Linked DNA regions of Homo sapiens: region 1 is linked to region 2. The links come from fine-mapping of genetic effects on gene expression. A gene starts in region 2. The other region holds a variant in brackets. All regions are shown on one strand. Distances are from middle to middle. Region 1 overlaps TCF3 (transcription factor 3). Region 2 holds the start of TCF3 (transcription factor 3).

Evidence for each region.
Region 1: its variant is fine-mapped to the expression of TCF3 in whole blood (INTERVAL, PIP 0.98).

The regions. Positions count from the first base shown.
Region 1 is chr19:1,615,074-1,623,073 of GRCh38, reverse strand. It overlaps TCF3 (transcription factor 3), which reads left to right. Exons shown (of 19, transcript NM_003200.5): 9 at 659-761; 10 at 851-1,020; 11 at 1,104-1,236; 12 at 1,883-1,941; 13 at 2,028-2,106; 14 at 3,221-3,294; 15 at 3,600-3,758; 16 at 3,840-3,963; 17 at 7,253-7,388; 18 at 7,554-7,789. It also overlaps the pseudogene RNU6-1223P. Among named protein-coding and RNA genes, the nearest start is that of UQCR11, 14 kb to the right of the region's middle. The variant C/T (reference allele first, on the strand shown) is at 3,740.
Region 2 is chr19:1,648,985-1,657,474 of GRCh38, reverse strand. It overlaps TCF3 (transcription factor 3), which reads left to right and starts at 4,860. Exons shown (of 19, transcript NM_003200.5): 1 at 4,860-5,175; 2 at 7,188-7,298. The coding sequence starts at 7,227. RefSeq lists enhancers at 4,122-4,231, 4,352-4,401, 7,820-8,319, 8,332-8,490 and silencers at 4,692-4,741, 4,752-4,881, 5,412-5,491, 5,582-5,811, 5,619-5,841 and 1 more.

The DNA of each region.
Region 1 (8,000 bases), 34 kb after region 2:
GTCAGGCTCTGCTCCCAACAGTATCACTCACTCCCCTCCTTCCCCAGGGTGCACTTTCTCTGCCCTGAAACCGCCCCCCAGTTTATTACAACATCAGGCCCACCCAGCATACTTCCCGCTCCAGCACAGCAGCAGACGTTACCAACAGGCCCCAGCCCCACAGTCCAGGCAGTGCCAACCAGTCAGAGCTGGCGCTACTCACAGACCCCTCTTCCTGTTACTTTAGTGAAGGACGAATGTTGCTCTGGGACCAAGGGAAGCTCAGCACTGGAAGATTGATTCCAGCTGGGGAACAAGGGAGAAGGATGGGATGGGGTGTTGGAGCTGGGGTTTTGATGGGTCGATAGGAGTTTTCTGGATTAAGGAGGAAAAAGGTTTAGTAGGCAGAGCCAGATCCAAGTCCTCAAGTACAAAGGTCAGAAGTTCAGGGAGGCGGGAGGTGGGGGCTGGAAAAGGAGTAGGAGAGAGAGACCAGGACATCATAAGAACCTCAAACTTGGCCAGGGGCTGGGATTTACCTAAAGGGGGGTGGCTTTACAGGGAAGGGAAACGGGGTGGTAGATGTGCTACCAGGAGGGGACAGGAGGCCGGCAAGGTGCATGGGCTGATCGTGGTCCCTCCGTCCTGACTGCACCCCCCACCGCCCACCCGCCCGCAGGTGTACCCACCCAGCTCAGGTGAGGACTACGGCAGGGATGCCACCGCCTACCCGTCCGCCAAGACCCCCAGCAGCACCTATCCCGCCCCCTTCTACGTGGCAGGTACATGGCAGGGCGGGGGCTCGCCAGGGACGGTAGGGCAGGGCTGGGGTTCCCCACTCGGCCCCCACCTTACCAGCTCCCCTCCACAGATGGCAGCCTGCACCCCTCAGCCGAGCTCTGGAGTCCCCCGGGCCAGGCGGGCTTCGGGCCCATGCTGGGTGGGGGCTCATCCCCGCTGCCCCTCCCGCCCGGTAGCGGCCCGGTGGGCAGCAGTGGAAGCAGCAGCACGTTTGGTGGCCTGCACCAGCACGAGCGTATGGTAGGACCCAGGGCAGGGGGCAGGGGGTGGGCGGAGGGTGGCAGTGCCCATCTAACCCACCCTCCTCCTGCCTGACCCCCCAGGGCTACCAGCTGCATGGAGCAGAGGTGAACGGTGGGCTCCCATCTGCATCCTCCTTCTCCTCAGCCCCCGGAGCCACGTACGGCGGCGTCTCCAGCCACACGCCGCCTGTCAGCGGGGCCGACAGCCTCCTGGGTATGGCCCCTCCCTGGGATGCGGCCTCTCCGAGGGGACACTGGGCTCCAGGCAGGGTCTGGGTGGGGGGTGGCGAGGACTCCACGGGAGGCGCAGGCGCGTCTGCTGGCCCTGAGAGCGGGTTGTTGTCAGTTCTCATTGTCCGCTGTCTGCAGGGCCTGCCACGTGCGTTGGGCTTGGGATGTCTGGAAACAGATCTTTGAGGAGCGGCTTTCCCGCCTTACAGCTGGGAAAGAGGCTCAGAGAGGGACTCACCCACCCAGGGTCAGAGAGGGACTCACCCACCCAGGGTCAGAGAGGGACTCACCCACCCAGGCCCAGAGAGGGACTCACCCACCCAGGCCCAGAGAGGGACTCAGTTACCCAGGCCCAGAGAGGGACTCACCCATCCAGGCCCAGAGGGGGACTCACCCACCCAGGCCCAGAAGGGGACTCACCCACCCAGGGTCCCCTGCCAGTGGCCTGTCCCCAGTGCCTCAACCCCTGCAGAGGCTGGTTTCAGGGGGTCAGACAGAAACCGGACCCGAGTCAGGCTGCTCTCCCTGGCGCAGCAGTGTCTGTGCAGGACGGCAGAACGCAGGAGAGCTTGCCGTCGGCGGCAGCACCCAGGCCGGGCTGCGTGGGCCTCACCTCTCTTCACCCACAGGCTCCCGAGGGACCACAGCTGGCAGCTCCGGGGATGCCCTCGGCAAAGCACTGGCCTCGGTGAGGCGTGGGGCATGGGGGGTGGCCAGGCAAGTGACCTGAGAGGCCGGCCCCTGACCGCCCATCTCTCCTGGTCCTCCTCGCAGATCTACTCCCCGGATCACTCAAGCAATAACTTCTCGTCCAGCCCTTCTACCCCCGTGGGCTCCCCCCAGGGCCTGGCAGGTCTGTGAGGGTTTTGGGGGGAGGGGAGGCTGAGGTCTGTGAGGGTTTGGGGGGAGGGGAGGCTGAGGTCTGTGAAGGCTTTGCGGGGGAGGGGAGGCTGGTTCTGGTGTCTGCACCTTGCTGGGATAGGCAGGCAGCGGGGAGGGAGCAGATGGCCCCCAAGGGCCCGTGGCATCGCTGGTCAGGAACCGACGGTGGAAGGGAGTCCCCCATGGGCTTGTGTTCCACTGGGCAATCCAGGAAAGCTGCCTAGTGGAGGCAGCCTCCAAGCCAGCCCTCCAAGGCTATAGCACATAACCAGGCAGTGAGGGAGGGCTGGGAGGTGGCGTCCAGGTTAGGTCACAGCACAGGCAAAGCCAGGAGGCAGGACCTGGCAGTTCACACTGCGTGAACATGAGGGGACATTGGCGTGCCTAGCAGCTCCCAGGTCCGATGGGGCCAGCATCGCCAGGGCTGTGGCCTGGACTCTAGAATGTGTGCGTGTTGCCATTTGCTCACCCACTGGGTATTTATTAGGTACTGACTGTTTACCCTGTGCGGTGCTCCGGCATGGGAGGGCAGACCCTCCTATCCCTGTGAGGACGTGCTTGCTTATCCGCAGGGGGTCGGGGGCAGGTACAGGAGGAGGGGGAGTGAGAACTGGAGGTTTCCAGAAGGTCTGGGTGTTTAAAAACACCCGTGAGTCCTCATCTCTGCCCCCATGGGAAGCGCCAGGAACCCTCACTTCACCTCGGCCTGTCTGGTCCCACCTGGAGCTTGCCACTTTCTTGCCTGCTGCTGGAGCCCAGCGTGGGTCAGCCAGGGTGGGGCAGCATGGGGAGGAGCCCCCTACTGTGTGCTGCCGAGCCACTTTATCCTCTGAGTGGGGAGTTGGATTTTGTAGATGGGGAAACTGAGGCTCAGAGATAGGAATGGCAGTACCCACTGGGCACCCAGCATCCCTGCCTGGCGGGGCCGAGCAGCTTTGCATCAGTGTGGGGTGCCCCGGAATGGCCATCTTGGGCATCACCGGAGGCTGGACAGGCGGGGTGGTTCATGAATCCCTCCCCATGGGCATCAGGCCATGCTCACACCCCGCCCCTCGCACCCCATTCACGTCCCCACTCCCTTCCAGGAACGTCACAGTGGCCTCGAGCAGGAGCCCCCGGTGCCTTATCGCCCAGCTACGACGGGGGTCTCCACGGCCTGGTGAGTGCCTGCCCCGCCCCACCCCACCCTTCCCCGACAGAATTTGCAGGACAGACGCTCCTTGAGAAGGAGAAACCTTTTTGTTAGTTTCTTGTAAATAAGCCCCAAGCTGTTATTGAGGCCTCGTGGCCGCCAAGGCACACACATTTTGTGTGTGCTCCCGGGCGCCAGATGCCTGGCATATGCAGCTTCCTGGGGAAGGGGAAGATGGGACCACCGGCCACTTGCATGCGGAAGGGACATGAATGGAGGCCTGTGGGGTCCCTCGGCTTGGGCCCCTCACCACCCATCCCCCCACCCTGCAGCAGAGTAAGATAGAAGACCACCTGGACGAGGCCATCCACGTGCTCCGCAGCCACGCCGTGGGCACAGCCGGCGACATGCACACGCTGCTGCCTGGCCACGGGGCGCTGGCCTCAGGTTTCACCGGCCCCATGTCACTGGG[C/T]GGGCGGCACGCAGGCCTGGTGAGCGCTGGGCGAGGGTGGAGCTGGGCAGTGGGCGGGGACCCGGCTCCCCCTGATGCACCCGTCTCCCCACGCCTGCAGGTTGGAGGCAGCCACCCCGAGGACGGCCTCGCAGGCAGCACCAGCCTCATGCACAACCACGCGGCCCTCCCCAGCCAGCCAGGCACCCTCCCTGACCTGTCTCGGCCTCCCGACTCCTACAGTGGTAAGCCCTTGAGCTTGGGACTGTCCGACTCCTGGTTCCAGTTGGGGAAACTGAGGCACTCTAGTGGTGGGGGTCAGGGTGGGAGCCCAGGGCAGGTGTCACCGTGGGGGCACCTGGTGACATGGGCGCCCCAGTCAGCAACTTCAGGAGGGTGGGTAAGACCGGCGGGGCCGGCGTTGGCCCTGGGCGTGTGAGGTGGACAGCTCTGGGCTGCCTCTTCATTCGCCTGCTCCCAGACGCTGTGTGCCTGGCAGCGCTCAGCACTGGGGAAGGGGCGAGGGGTGCAGCAGGATGCCTCTGCCTCAGGGGAGACAGACCAGGAGCTCGCTGCACAGTACAGGTGCCAGGGAGAAGGAACGAAGTGGCTGCGGTGGGTTGGGGGTTTTGTATGGCTTTGAAGATGGTGGCCCATGAGGCCACAAGGTGGTGTTTGGGCAGCATCTGGGAGGAGGCAAGAGTAGGCAAGTACCTGGAGGAGGAGGGTTTCAGGCAGAGGGCGCAGCCCAGGCAAAGGCCCTGGGGCTGGACTGCACCTGGGAGGAACAGCCAGGAGACCCGTGGGGTTGGAGCAGAGTGAGGAGAGGGAGAGAGGGAAGGGGGGAGGGCGGGGCAGGGCAGGTCATGCGGGGCCTTGTGGGCTGCGGGGAGGACTTGGGATTTGGCCATGAGAAAGGTGGCAGCCGTGGAGGGCTGAGGAGGGATGGGACCTGACCCAGGTGCTCACAGATACCCTCTGGTGGCTGCTTGGAGGACAGACTATGAGTGGCACCGGGAGACCAAGGCAGAGGCCACAGGGCTGGTCCAGGGGCCTTGGAGGGGTGAGCAGTGGGTGGGCCCTGCATCTCCTGAAGGCGGGGCCCACAGGATTTGTGATGGACAGGACTTGAGGGTGAGAGAAGGCAGGGTGGCTCTGGGATTTCTGGCCCGAGCTGTGGGTGACACTGGGGCTGGGAACTCCGTAAGGAAGGGGACAAAGGAAAAGGTTGGGGACAAATCTGGACCTGGGCCTGGGGATTGTTGAGTGTCTCAGACACCCATGAGAGGCCCAGGAGAAGGTGGGGTCATTGTGGGCGCTGTCCTGGCCCTGTGCCTTCCACCAGCCCAGGAATCCTGCCTGCTTTCCAGGCAGACTTTCCAAGTACCTTGATTCTATCACTCCTAGGCCAGGGCATCTCACCGCAGCGGCTCTGCCCCCAGGGGACACTGGGTGATGTCTGGGGACATCTACAGTTGTCAGGGCTGAGGGGAGCTCCTGGCATGGAGTGGGTGGGGGCCAGGGATGCTGCTCAGCACCCTGCAGTGCCCAGGACGGCCCCACCCCAGAGAAGGGTCCGGACCCACAGGTCAGCAGTTTCCAGGGGCAGCCCCAAGCTTAGTCTTTCACCCATAGGCTCCCCTCTGTTTCCTTCCTGTCCTTCACTTCGTGTGCTGAGGCCTGGGCTGGTCCTGGTGGCTGGCGTTGGCCGATTGGAGCAGAGTTCACTGTGGGGAGCGGGTGCATTTCTGAGGCTCCCCCTCAGGGTACGGGGGTCTCAGGGGATGGCAGCTGGTTTGCTCCATGTGAGCCCTGACTGATTCCTGGACTCCCCAAGCCCGGGTTTTGGGGGTGGCCCAGGCCCTGCTGAATGCAGAGTGGCCGCATTCATTTGGGGCACTGTGTACCCTTAAGCCACATGTTTTGCAATTATTGTTCTTGAGCTTCATGAACACGGCGTCCCACTAGCGTGTTCTTTACACGCTGGTTTGCTGGCTTATGTTGTGTGTGGGGTACATGTGTGGTGTGAGCGGCTGGGGTCCCATTGTGAGTGTGCCGTTGGCCCTGGCCCGGGCGTGGGGCTGTAGGTCATTCCAACATCACGCTTTCCTGCCAACCTGCTGATCAAGGGTGTGATACACCTGTTGTCAATTCAGAGGAAAGGCTGATGAATTATTTTCCAAAGCAGCCAAGTTGCCCTCCCACAGGCAAGATTTTGACTGTTCAGGTCCCTCAACTTTGCTAGCTGACTGGGTATGAAAGGGTAGCGCAAAGCCACCCTAATTTGCATTTCCTTAATCTCTTGATGTGCTGAAGCGGACTTCCACGTGTTTCTAGCCATGTGGTTTCCTTGTCTGTGAGATGCCTTTTTGGATACCTTGCTTATTTTTCTACTGAGTTACTTTCTTTTTGTCCTTTCCCATTGATTGTGGGAGATCACCTCCTGGTTGGCTACATCTGTGGTGGGTGTCTTCTATTCTTTGGCAAATGCTTTTCTTTTCCTGGTATCTTTGCTGATCAGGAACTCTCAATTCTGATATAGTCCAGCTTACTGATTTTTGTTTTTTCTTTTTTACTTGTTTTGTTTTGAGACAGGGTCTCACCCTGTCACACCAGAGTGCAGGGGCATGATCACAGCTCACGGTAGCCATGACCCCCTGGCCTCAAGTGACCCTTCCACCTCAGCCTCCCAAAGTGCTGGGATCACAGGCGTGAGTCAGCCACTGTGCCCGGCCTGTGTTCTTTCAAAAGCAGCGCTTTGAGCACTTGCTTGGACAGCTCTTGGACTAAAATGAGAATGATAAAGATTAGCATAGCATCTGCACAAGGGTGACGTGGACATTCCTGAAGTGTTCCAAAGTTTTATTCTTTTTTTTTTTTTTGAGACGGAGTCTTGCTTTGTCACCCAGGCTGGAGTACAGTGGCGCAATCTTGGCTCACTGCAACCTCCGCCTCCTGGGTTCAAGTGATTCTCCTGCCTCAGCCTCCCAAGTAGCTGGGATTACAGGTACCCACCACCACAGCTGGCTAATTTTTTGTATTTTTAGTAGAGATGGGGTTTCACCATGTTAGCCAGGATGGTCTTGATCTCCTGACCTCGTGATCCACCCACCTCGGCCTCCCAAAATGCTGGCATTACAGGTGTGAGCTGGTGTGAGCCACTGTGCCCATCCGAAGTGTTCCATATTTTTAAGTTAATGATTGAAACAGTTTACTTTCACCAAAAAAGAAGAGTGTTCTTTTAGCATCTTAGTAGATTCCTGCCATTGAGTTGCTGCAGAATTTCTACACACTTTGTTCCAAAGGTGGTAAAACTGTTTCCCTTTCATCTTGTGGTCCTTAATCTGTCTGGCATTGGTAGCTACACATGGCGTGAGGTAGGGATCCAGTTCTGGTTGTTGGTTTTTTGTTTTTATTTTTGGCCAAGACCTGGTTTTTCCAGGAAAGCCCAAGTCCCTCACCACAGGAGCACAAAGAGATATGTCAGTTGGCCCTGGAGGCCGACGCAGGCCCCTGACCCTAGGCCTGTTGCAGGGCTAGGGCGAGCAGGTGCCACGGCGGCCGCCAGCGAGATCAAGCGGGAGGAGAAGGAGGACGAGGAGAACACGTCAGCGGCTGACCACTCGGAGGAGGAGAAGAAGGAGCTGAAGGCCCCCCGGGCCCGGACCAGGTGCCAACCCACCCCTCGGCACTCCCCACCCTCACCCCATCAGGACGCACATGTGCACAGGCCACACGCACACCGCACCCACACTGGGAGGCCGTCGGCGGGCCCCACGCTCTTCCCCCAACCTCACTGTCTCCCTCTGGCCCCCTCCCGGCGCCCTCCCCATAGCCCAGACGAGGACGAGGACGACCTTCTCCCCCCAGAGCAGAAGGCCGAGCGGGAGAAGGAGCGCCGGGTGGCCAATAACGCCCGGGAGCGGCTGCGGGTCCGTGACATCAACGAGGCCTTTAAGGAGCTGGGGCGCATGTGCCAACTGCACCTCAACAGCGAGAAGCCCCAGACCAAACTGCTCATCCTGCACCAGGCTGTCTCGGTCATCCTGAACTTGGAGCAGCAAGTGCGAGGTCAGTGGGGGCGCGGGCCACCAGCGTCCCTGCAGCGCCACCCTCCCTCGTGTTCCTGCCCTCGTTCTCCTTCCCCGCCCGCCTTCCTGGAGCCAGCCCTCCCTCTGCAGCAGTTGCCTCCTTGCAGTGACTGTGCCCTTCACCCCTCTGACCGCATTGCCATGACTGTCCACTCCTGACTGCCAGCCCTTCTCCCTGCCTGCCTCAGCAT
Region 2 (8,490 bases):
TCATGGTCCCTGTGATCACGTCCGTCTCTTGCTCAAACTCCCACCATGGTTCCCTAGTCCTCTCACCATGAAGACCCAATTCCTCCCTGTGGCATAGGAGGCCCTGCCCCTCTCTCTGATCTTGGCTCCTCTTCTCTGGTCTTCTCTGGGCTCCAGCCTCACAGGCCCCGTTCCTTGAACACCCCACACCCCCTCCCACCTCAGTACCTTTGTCCCTCAGCTTCCCCTGCCTGGCATGGTATCCGCTCTCTGCCTGTCGACCGCATGCATCTTGAGGTCATAGCCCAAGAGTCACTGCCCCAGGGGACCCACTCCCTGTGGGAGATGGTCCTTCTTCCCCTGAATGCCCTACAGCAGGAGGTGTGAGGCTGTGTTCCCATTCCCGTCAACCTCAGAGCCTCCTGCCCAGCTCTCCTGGCCCTCTGGCTCCCATAAGTCTGGGTGGAGGGGTAGGGGTCTGATCACCGACAAGCCTCTTCCCTTCCTTGGTGTCCTCATAGCTGGAAGTGCCCGAGGAGTCAGGAACCCTTGTGATCAGACCCCAGGAACTGGAGTGTGTCCCCACTGCTCCATTTCACACCAGAATCTCCTCCCTCCGCTAGGGGAGAACAATCATAAGCCCCTAGCACTCCCAATCTCAGGAGGCTTCCCTGCCCAGGTCCAACCAGCAAGCCTGGAGACGCCTCCTCCCAGAAGGCAGGAAGAATGGGGCCGGGTGTGGTGGCTCATGCTGGTAAGCCCATCACTTTGGGTAGGCCAAGGCAGGAAGATCGCTTGAGGCCAGGAGTTCTAGACCAGCCTGGGCGACAGGGTGAAACCCCGTCTCTATAAAAAAATACAAAAATTAGCCAGGCGTGGCAGTGGGCACCTATAATCCCAGCTACTCAGGAGGCTGAGGCAGGAGAATCGCTTGACCCCAGGAGGTGGAGGTTGTAGTGAGCTGAGCTGGCACCACTGCCCTCCAGCCTGGACGACAGAGTGAGATTTCATCTAAAAAAAAAAATTTTTTTTTAAGAGATGGGGTCTTGCTGTGTTGTCCAGTCTGGTCTCAAACTCCTGGGCTCAAGCGATCCTTCCACCTCACCCCATCTCTGCTAAAATAAAATAAAAACGAAGTTGTGGAGAATAAGGGAATGGGCCCTACCCTGGCCGAGTCCCAGCCCAGGGCTCTGTGGGGTGGTCCTGATCTGGTCGTGTTGGGATCAGGCCCCTCACTGGAGGTCTGAGCTCGAGCAGGAAGCCCCCACTTTGGGAGGCGACACCGATCGCCCCAGCTGCCCGTGCTCAGTGGACGCCGGAGCGAGGTTTGTCCCAGGGCCTGACGTGGGTGATAAGTGCTGGGCCGCCACTCCCTTCTCCGCCCCTGCTGGAGGGCGCTGGGGGTTGGGGGAGTGTGTTCATACCCTGGGAGAAGTCAAAGGTGCCCACTTTAGGGACAAATGGAAACAGAAATCTGGAGGGTGGCCCCGAAGTCCTAATCCAAGCCCAGTCTCTCTGCGGACAGCTGTGGCCTGCACACCTACTGCGTCTGTCTCTGGAAACCTCGCCATCGCCGCCCCTCGCCCCCCTCGCTTCTGTGTCTCCCTAGTGGGAAGTTGTCCTTGGCCTCAGTTTTTCTGACATACGTGGTTCATGTTGGCGGGGGCGCACACAGTAGGTGTGGAGGGAACAGGCGGCAGGTGCAGAGGCCCTGCTCCTCCTCCTGCCCGGCCCCAGAGCAAAACAAAGGCCACAGTCAGGAGGATAGCTTGCTGCCTGTCCCCGTACCAGGGCCCTGGAGGGAGCACCCAGGCCTCGGGGCTGGGCAGAGGTGGTGGCCAAGTGGGGGGCCCCCACGGGCTGCTCCACCCAGTGACTCAGCCCCAGGACTGACCTCCTTGGGGAAAACAATGGTGGCTTGTGGTTACCAGCGGAACCTCCTGGCAGGCGCGAGCCCCAGGGTGCCCTGGGGCCCAGGGAGGAGACCCCTAGTCTCAGTTTCCTCATCTGTACGATACGTGGAACCACACAGGCAGGAGGACCTCACAGGAAAGAGCCACATTCAGGACTAGACAAGGGGTCCCTCATGGGTCATCCTGCCGGGACAGCAGGGACTGAGTCCATCACTGTCCACAGTGCTACGATGCGCGGCACAAGGCCCCGTTCGCTGTCAGTGCCCGATAATTGAATAGTCTTGTACGGCGCAGTGGCACACGCCTGTAATCCCAGCACTCTGGGAAGCCAAGGCGGGAGGATCACTTGTGCCTAGGAGTTCAAGACCAGCCTGGGCAACATAGGGAGAACCCCGTCTCTACAAAAAATACAAAATTAGCTGGGTGTGGTGGCGCGTGCCTGTGGTCCCAGCTACTCGGGAAACTGAGGCGGGAGGATCGTTTGAGCCCAGGAGGTCAAGGCTGCAGTGAGCTGTGATCTCACCACTGCACTCCAGCCTGGGCAACAGAGCGAGACTCTTTCTCAAAATAATAATAATAATAATAAGAAGAAGAAGAAGAAGAAGAAGAAGAAGAAGAAGTCCGTGATTGGATGGTTGCTTCCCTTCCGTGGGTGAAACTGAAGGGCTCCTCGGGAGGACTCCGGCTGCCACACTATGGCTTGGACCCTGAGTGTGGGTGGGGAGTGGCCCACAGTGAGCTCCCTACACTGGAATGGGGAGAGCCAGACCCGGCCACAGACACCCTCAGACCCATGGGGTCAGGGCTGGGCCACAAGGAAGGGCCGGGGGCTGAGGAGGCTGGGGTGGGATTGGAGCTGCTTGGAGACCCTGGCTCCGGAGAGGCCTCTGCGGGGGTGGGGGGCGGCTGAGGAAGGCAGGCATCAGCTGTGAGCACCTACTGTGTGCCAGACTCCCCCCTTCCACTGTCCAGATGGAGAAACCGAGGCCCGGAGAGTAGCACGAACTTGCCTGAGGTCACAGTGAGGTGGAGAGGGATGAGGGATTTGCAGCACAGACCCTGGGACCCACAGCCCTCTCCCCAGACCTGCGGCACGTGGAACTCTCTGGGCACGGAGGGTCGGACTGTGGACAGCCCAGTTTGGGTGTATAGCAGGAGGGGCTTGTGGCTTTGGTGGGGGGCCCCTGTGGCCCCGCCTCCCCGCCGGCCTGGCATAGGTGCAGCATTGAACTGTGATGACTCAGGGGCTCCAGATAGGGGTGGGAAAAGCCTCCCAGGTAGAGGACAAAGCAAACGTAGAGGCCCGGGGTGGGGATGAGCTTAGCAAGTTCTGGACCATCCAGAGGGCAGGATGGCTGGAGCCAAGCGGGCCAGCGAGATGGTGGCATCTTCCCAGGCTGGGAGTGGAGTGTAAATTTCCCTTTGGGGCCCCAGGGAGCCCTGGGAGATTGTGTTATTTTCATTTATTTGTTTAGTTATTTTACTTTTTTTTTTGAGACGGAGCCTCGTTCTGTCGCCCAGCCTGGAGTGCAGTGCTGCGATCTCTGCTCACTGCAACCTCTGCCTCCTGGGTTTAAGCGATTCTCCTGCCTCAGCTTCCCGAGTAGCTGAGATTATAGGTGTATGCCACCACGCCCAGCTAATTTTTGTATTTTTATTTTATTTTACTTATTTATTTATTTATTTTGAGACGGAGTTTCGTCCTTGTTGCCCAGGCTGGAGTACAATGGCGTGCTCTCGGCTCATTGCAACCTCCGCCTTTCGGGTGAAAGCGATTCTGCTGCCTCAGCCTCCCGAGTAGCTAGGACTACAGGTGCCCGCCACCATGCCCGGCTAATTTTTGTATTTTTAGTAGAGATGGGGTTTCACCGTGTTGGCCAGAGAGGTCTCGAACTCCTGACTTCAGGTGATCTGCCCGCCTTGGCCTCCCAAAGTGCTGGGAATACAAGCGTGGGCCACCGCGTCCGGTCAACTTTTTAAATTATTATTTTAAATTATTTTAAATATTTTTAGAGACGGGTGTGGGTGGGGGGGGTTTCACTATGTTGTTCAGGCTGTTCTCGAACTCCTGGCCTCAAGCGATCTTCCCGCCTCGGCCTCCTTCAAAGCGCTGGGATCACAGGCAGGAGCCACGGCGCCCGATCCTAGGCGGGGTCACTTTTTACTAAAATGTAGACACGGACTACTAAGAATCAGGAAGCCAGATCTGGCCTGAGTTCTGTCCAAAGTCAGGTCCAAATTCACAGATGCCGAGACGGAGACTCAAGTCGGCAAAGGCACCGCTGAGACTCCCCGCGGGGCTCTCTGACCCAGAGCCGGAGCCAGAGTCGGTTTTCCCGCCGGGAAAATGGGTCTGACGTAGCCCCCTCGGGGCCGTGATACCCGCTCGCACCACTCAGCACGCGGGGCCGGCCCGAGGAACGCAAATATAACCAAGCAGAAGGCTCCGCGCGGGCGGCCACGCCAACCTGAGAACAAAACTCCAGGACCCACCCCGGCCGCCTCTCGCGGCCTCTCGCTCGCAGAGTCCCGCCTCTGCTGAGGGGCGGGGCCGAGAAGAAAGGAGGCGGGGCCTCACCACGAATGGCTAGGATCCCCGCCCATCAGACTTTCGCGGCTTCCGATTGACCAGACTGCTCTGCCTTAGCTTTCAATCTCACGGGCCTTACTCGCTTGCGTCATGGACTAAGCGCACAGCTCGTGTGTGCTTCCGCGGACGGGGATAGTCCGTGATTTCTCCCCGCGCCGTGGCCCGACCGCCTCCTCTGCGCGTCCCCGCTCCCAGGCTCTGGACCTCACGGGATTCGGGGTCCTCACGAGGGTGCTCGAGAGGCCGAGCTAGGGCGTTCGGGCCCGAGCCGCCCGGAGGTGGCGGAGGGATCCGCGTGGGCCGCCGGGCGGGGCACTCGGGGGCGGGGCAGGGGCGGGGCCTGCACGGGGCGGGGCGGGGCGGCGCGGGCGGGGGGCGGAACATGTCTCCCGCCGCAGGAAGATGAGGCAGCGGCGGCGGCTGCGGGCGTAGCGGGCCGGAGCCGACGCGGCGGCGGGCACCGCGGGCACCGCGCACGCCGCTGCCCCAGGGGCGCCCCGGCCGGCCGCGCGCACGGGCCCCGCGGGACGGGCCACGCGGGGGTGGGAGGGGCCCGGGCCACGCGCGCCGCCGCCGCCGCCCACGCGCGACCCTCGGGGGCCCGGCCGCGACGCACCTTTGTCCGGGGGGGGGCCCCCCCGCTTCATGCCGCCGCCCCCCCCCACGCGCCGCGTGCCCGGCCGCGCCCAGCAGGTGAGCCCGGCGGGGGGCGGGGGGCGCGCCCGGTACCCCCGTGCTTTGTGCCCAGGGAACCCCGGCCCGCCCCGCGCGCGCTTGTTGGGGGGGGGCGCGGAGGAAGTTGGGGCGGGGGCGGTGTCGGGGGGCGCCCCGCGGCCCGGGAGTCATTGTTCTCCAACTTCGCGCGGCGCCGGGGGGGCGGCGACGTGGAGGAGCCCGGAGCTCGCCAGGCCCGCGTCGCCCCCGTCGGGCCGGGCACTTCGGGAAACTTTAAGCAGCCCCGGGCGGGGGCGCGGGGGGCGCCGGACGGGCTGTGCAACTTAGGCGCGAGGACCGTCCCCCCCAGCCCGGGCGCACGGGGACCCCGGGGCGCCCCCTTTCTCGGGTAGAGGGGGGCCCGGCCCGGGCGCCGGAGTTTGGGGTGGGGAGCGCGCGGGAGGGACGTCCTTTTGTCTGCGCGGGGAAGGTGCCGCGCGCTGCAGGCGCTGGTCGGGGCCGGGCGGGCCGGGGGGGGGCGCGCGGGTAACATCTGCTCCGCGTTAATGCGGGGCGAGGCGGCGGCCGCGCTGCGAGCTTCAAAGGCTCCCGGGCCGCACCGCCTGCACCGGCTGCGGGGGGAGGGGGGTCCGGCTTCCCGGGCCGCCTCCCCCCGGGAAAAAGGCGTTCCAGCGCGCCCCCCGCCTTCGGCGCCGTGCAAAGTGGCTTCAAACATTCTCCAAGTCTCTCAAAGTCCTTGGGACGCCCCAGAAGTCTTCCAGCTCCCGTAGAATGCCCGTTTTAGCTCGCCACCCCCCCAACTAAGTCTGTCTTAAAATCGGTTTCAGCTACCCCACAAAAAAGTGCGGTTTCGTAGTCCTCAAAAAAAGTCAGTTTCACACGCCCTCCAAAAAAGAAAAAAACTGAGCGGGGGAGGGGCTGCGCTGGGGCGCCCGCTTCACACCCGGCCTCCAGTTGGCAGACAAAGAGGGGATTTCTCTGCTTCTGAAGTTGGGTCTCCCTCGACCTCGGAGGCTCCTCCCCACCCCCAGCCTCGGAGGTGTCTCCCGGGCTGCCCCCGTCCCCACCTGGGGACCCCTGGGGAAAGTCGAGACTGGAGGGGCCTGGAGTGCATTTCTTTGGAATGGAAATTTTTCTCTGTACCTTTTTCTGGGGGTGGAATGGGTCTTGGCAGGTGGATCCCCCATCCCCCATCTTAGAATGGAGCCCCCTGGGACCACGCGGGAGCACCCTGGTCTTGAGACGCTCTCCCCGCTCATGGAGGGCAGGCAAGGGATGTTGTCAAAGTTTTGCTTAAAAATAATTCCCGGATACATCGCGACAGTAAAGCAATCTAGGGCTGTTTTTTTTTTCTTTCCTGAATACTGTTGGGGTTTTCTTGGGGGGAGGGAGATTGAGGGTGGAGGAAAGCTTTGCTGGTCCCTGCATAGGATGCGCGTCCCCCCCACCCCCGGCACTTTAAGTCTTGAAGCTTGTAAAAGAGTTTCGTGGTTTTCTGACTTGTGGATTTCCTTCATGTTGAATTTGGGGGCGACCTGGTCTTCAACGGGCTGTGCCATCTGCTGGGGGAGGGGGGAATCACCAAATTTCCCTCGGGGCGGGGTAGGATCGGGCTGTTCCTCCCTTTCCCGGGGGTAGGGGGCCTCAGAGGAAGCCCGGGGTTGGTTGGAAATGAGAGAGTTGGAGAAAGGAGAGGTTCTGGCTGCCCTGCGTGCAGTTTAAACTTGGCAACTTGATGCCCTGGTGTTCCCTGGGGGAGTTAGGGAGTTTATATTTGCACACCCTCCCCCCATTTTTCAGACTCCCTGTGGTCTCTGGGGAGGACTCTGCAGGGACCTAGACTCTGGAATTCCAGCTTCCCTGCGCCTGCTCCCAGGGCTCCCCGTGCCCCCAGGGCTCTGCTGGAACTCAGACCCCAGGGCGGTTGAGGGTTTTTTAGGTGGCTTTTAGCACTCTGTGCTTTGACCACTCACAACTCTTCTCCCCTCCCTGTTTCTCCCTGTCCATCTGTCCCCACATCCACCAAGCAGGGTTTCCAGGCCTGAGGTGCCCGCCCTGGCCCCAGGAGAATGAACCAGCCGCAGAGGATGGCGCCTGTGGGCACAGACAAGGAGCTCAGTGACCTCCTGGACTTCAGCATGGTGAGCCAGGACCCCCGCCCAGCCCCCGACACCCCTTTGCCTCCACAGTTCACGGGAAGGTTTTCAGGGGAGAGTGTTTGCTGAATACTTCAGCGATGGAGCCTCAGCTGTTTGGATGGGAGGCCCCGGTGGGGCTGGGGGAGTGGGCCGCTCTCTGGCAGGAGGCTGACAGCGCACGGCAGCACGTGTGCTATGGGGCTTTTGCCCGGACGCAGCATTCTACAGCCTACTGCTTTACAGATGGGGAAACTGAGTCCTCAGGGGCATGGTCCTGGGCCCCCAGCTTGGCTGGGTAAGCAAAATGCGGCCTTGATCTTCTGATCTGTAAAATGGGCCTGATCAGGGTCGCTTACCTCATTGTAGATACAAAAATTAAAAGTAAGTAAAAGATCACTGCACTCCAGTCTGGTTGACAGTGAGACCCTGGAGACCCTGTTTCAGTAAATGGGAGGGGGGCTGGGCACAGTGGTTCCCACCTGTCATTCCAGCACTTTGGGAGGCTGAGGCGGGAGGATCGCTTGAGGCCAGGAGTTCCAAGTCCAGCCCAGGAAACATAGTGAGGCCCCATTTCTCAAAAAGACAAAACAAAACTCAAAAAATTAGCTAGGAGTGGTGGTAGATGCCTGTGGTCCCAGCTACTTGGGAGGCTGAGGCAAGGAGAATCACTTGAGCCCTGGAGGTTGAGGCTGCAGTGAGCTGTGATTGCGCCACTGCACTCCTTCCTGGGCGATAGAGTAAGATCCTTCCTCAAAGAAGTAAAGGAGGGGGTGCCCAGTGCTGAGCGGACCACCCTCCGTGAACAGGGCAGACACAACCTGCCCCATACGGGACTCCCCTGGTGGGCAGAGGATGCGGGCATGAAACTGACTGTGTGGTTAATTAGTCACACGTGGGTGCTGAAGTTAAGCTGCCAGAAGCCGAGCTTGGGCCAGGAGGAGGCTGGATTGGGATTGAGTGGGAATTCATGGGCCACCGAGCAGACAGCAGCGCCACCATTGTGACTGCCACGGTTATCACTGCGGAGCAGGCAGGCCCGGTGGGGAGGGCGGGGCGGCTTCTTCAGAGTCTTAGGTGGTTGGATCTGTCCCTGTACGGCCCATTCTCCACCTGGGTGAACGGAGGCTCAGAGGGTGCTGGTCCTCAGAAGTCACACAGTTCAGGCAGGTGCAGTGAGGCTGGAATGCCGGAGCCC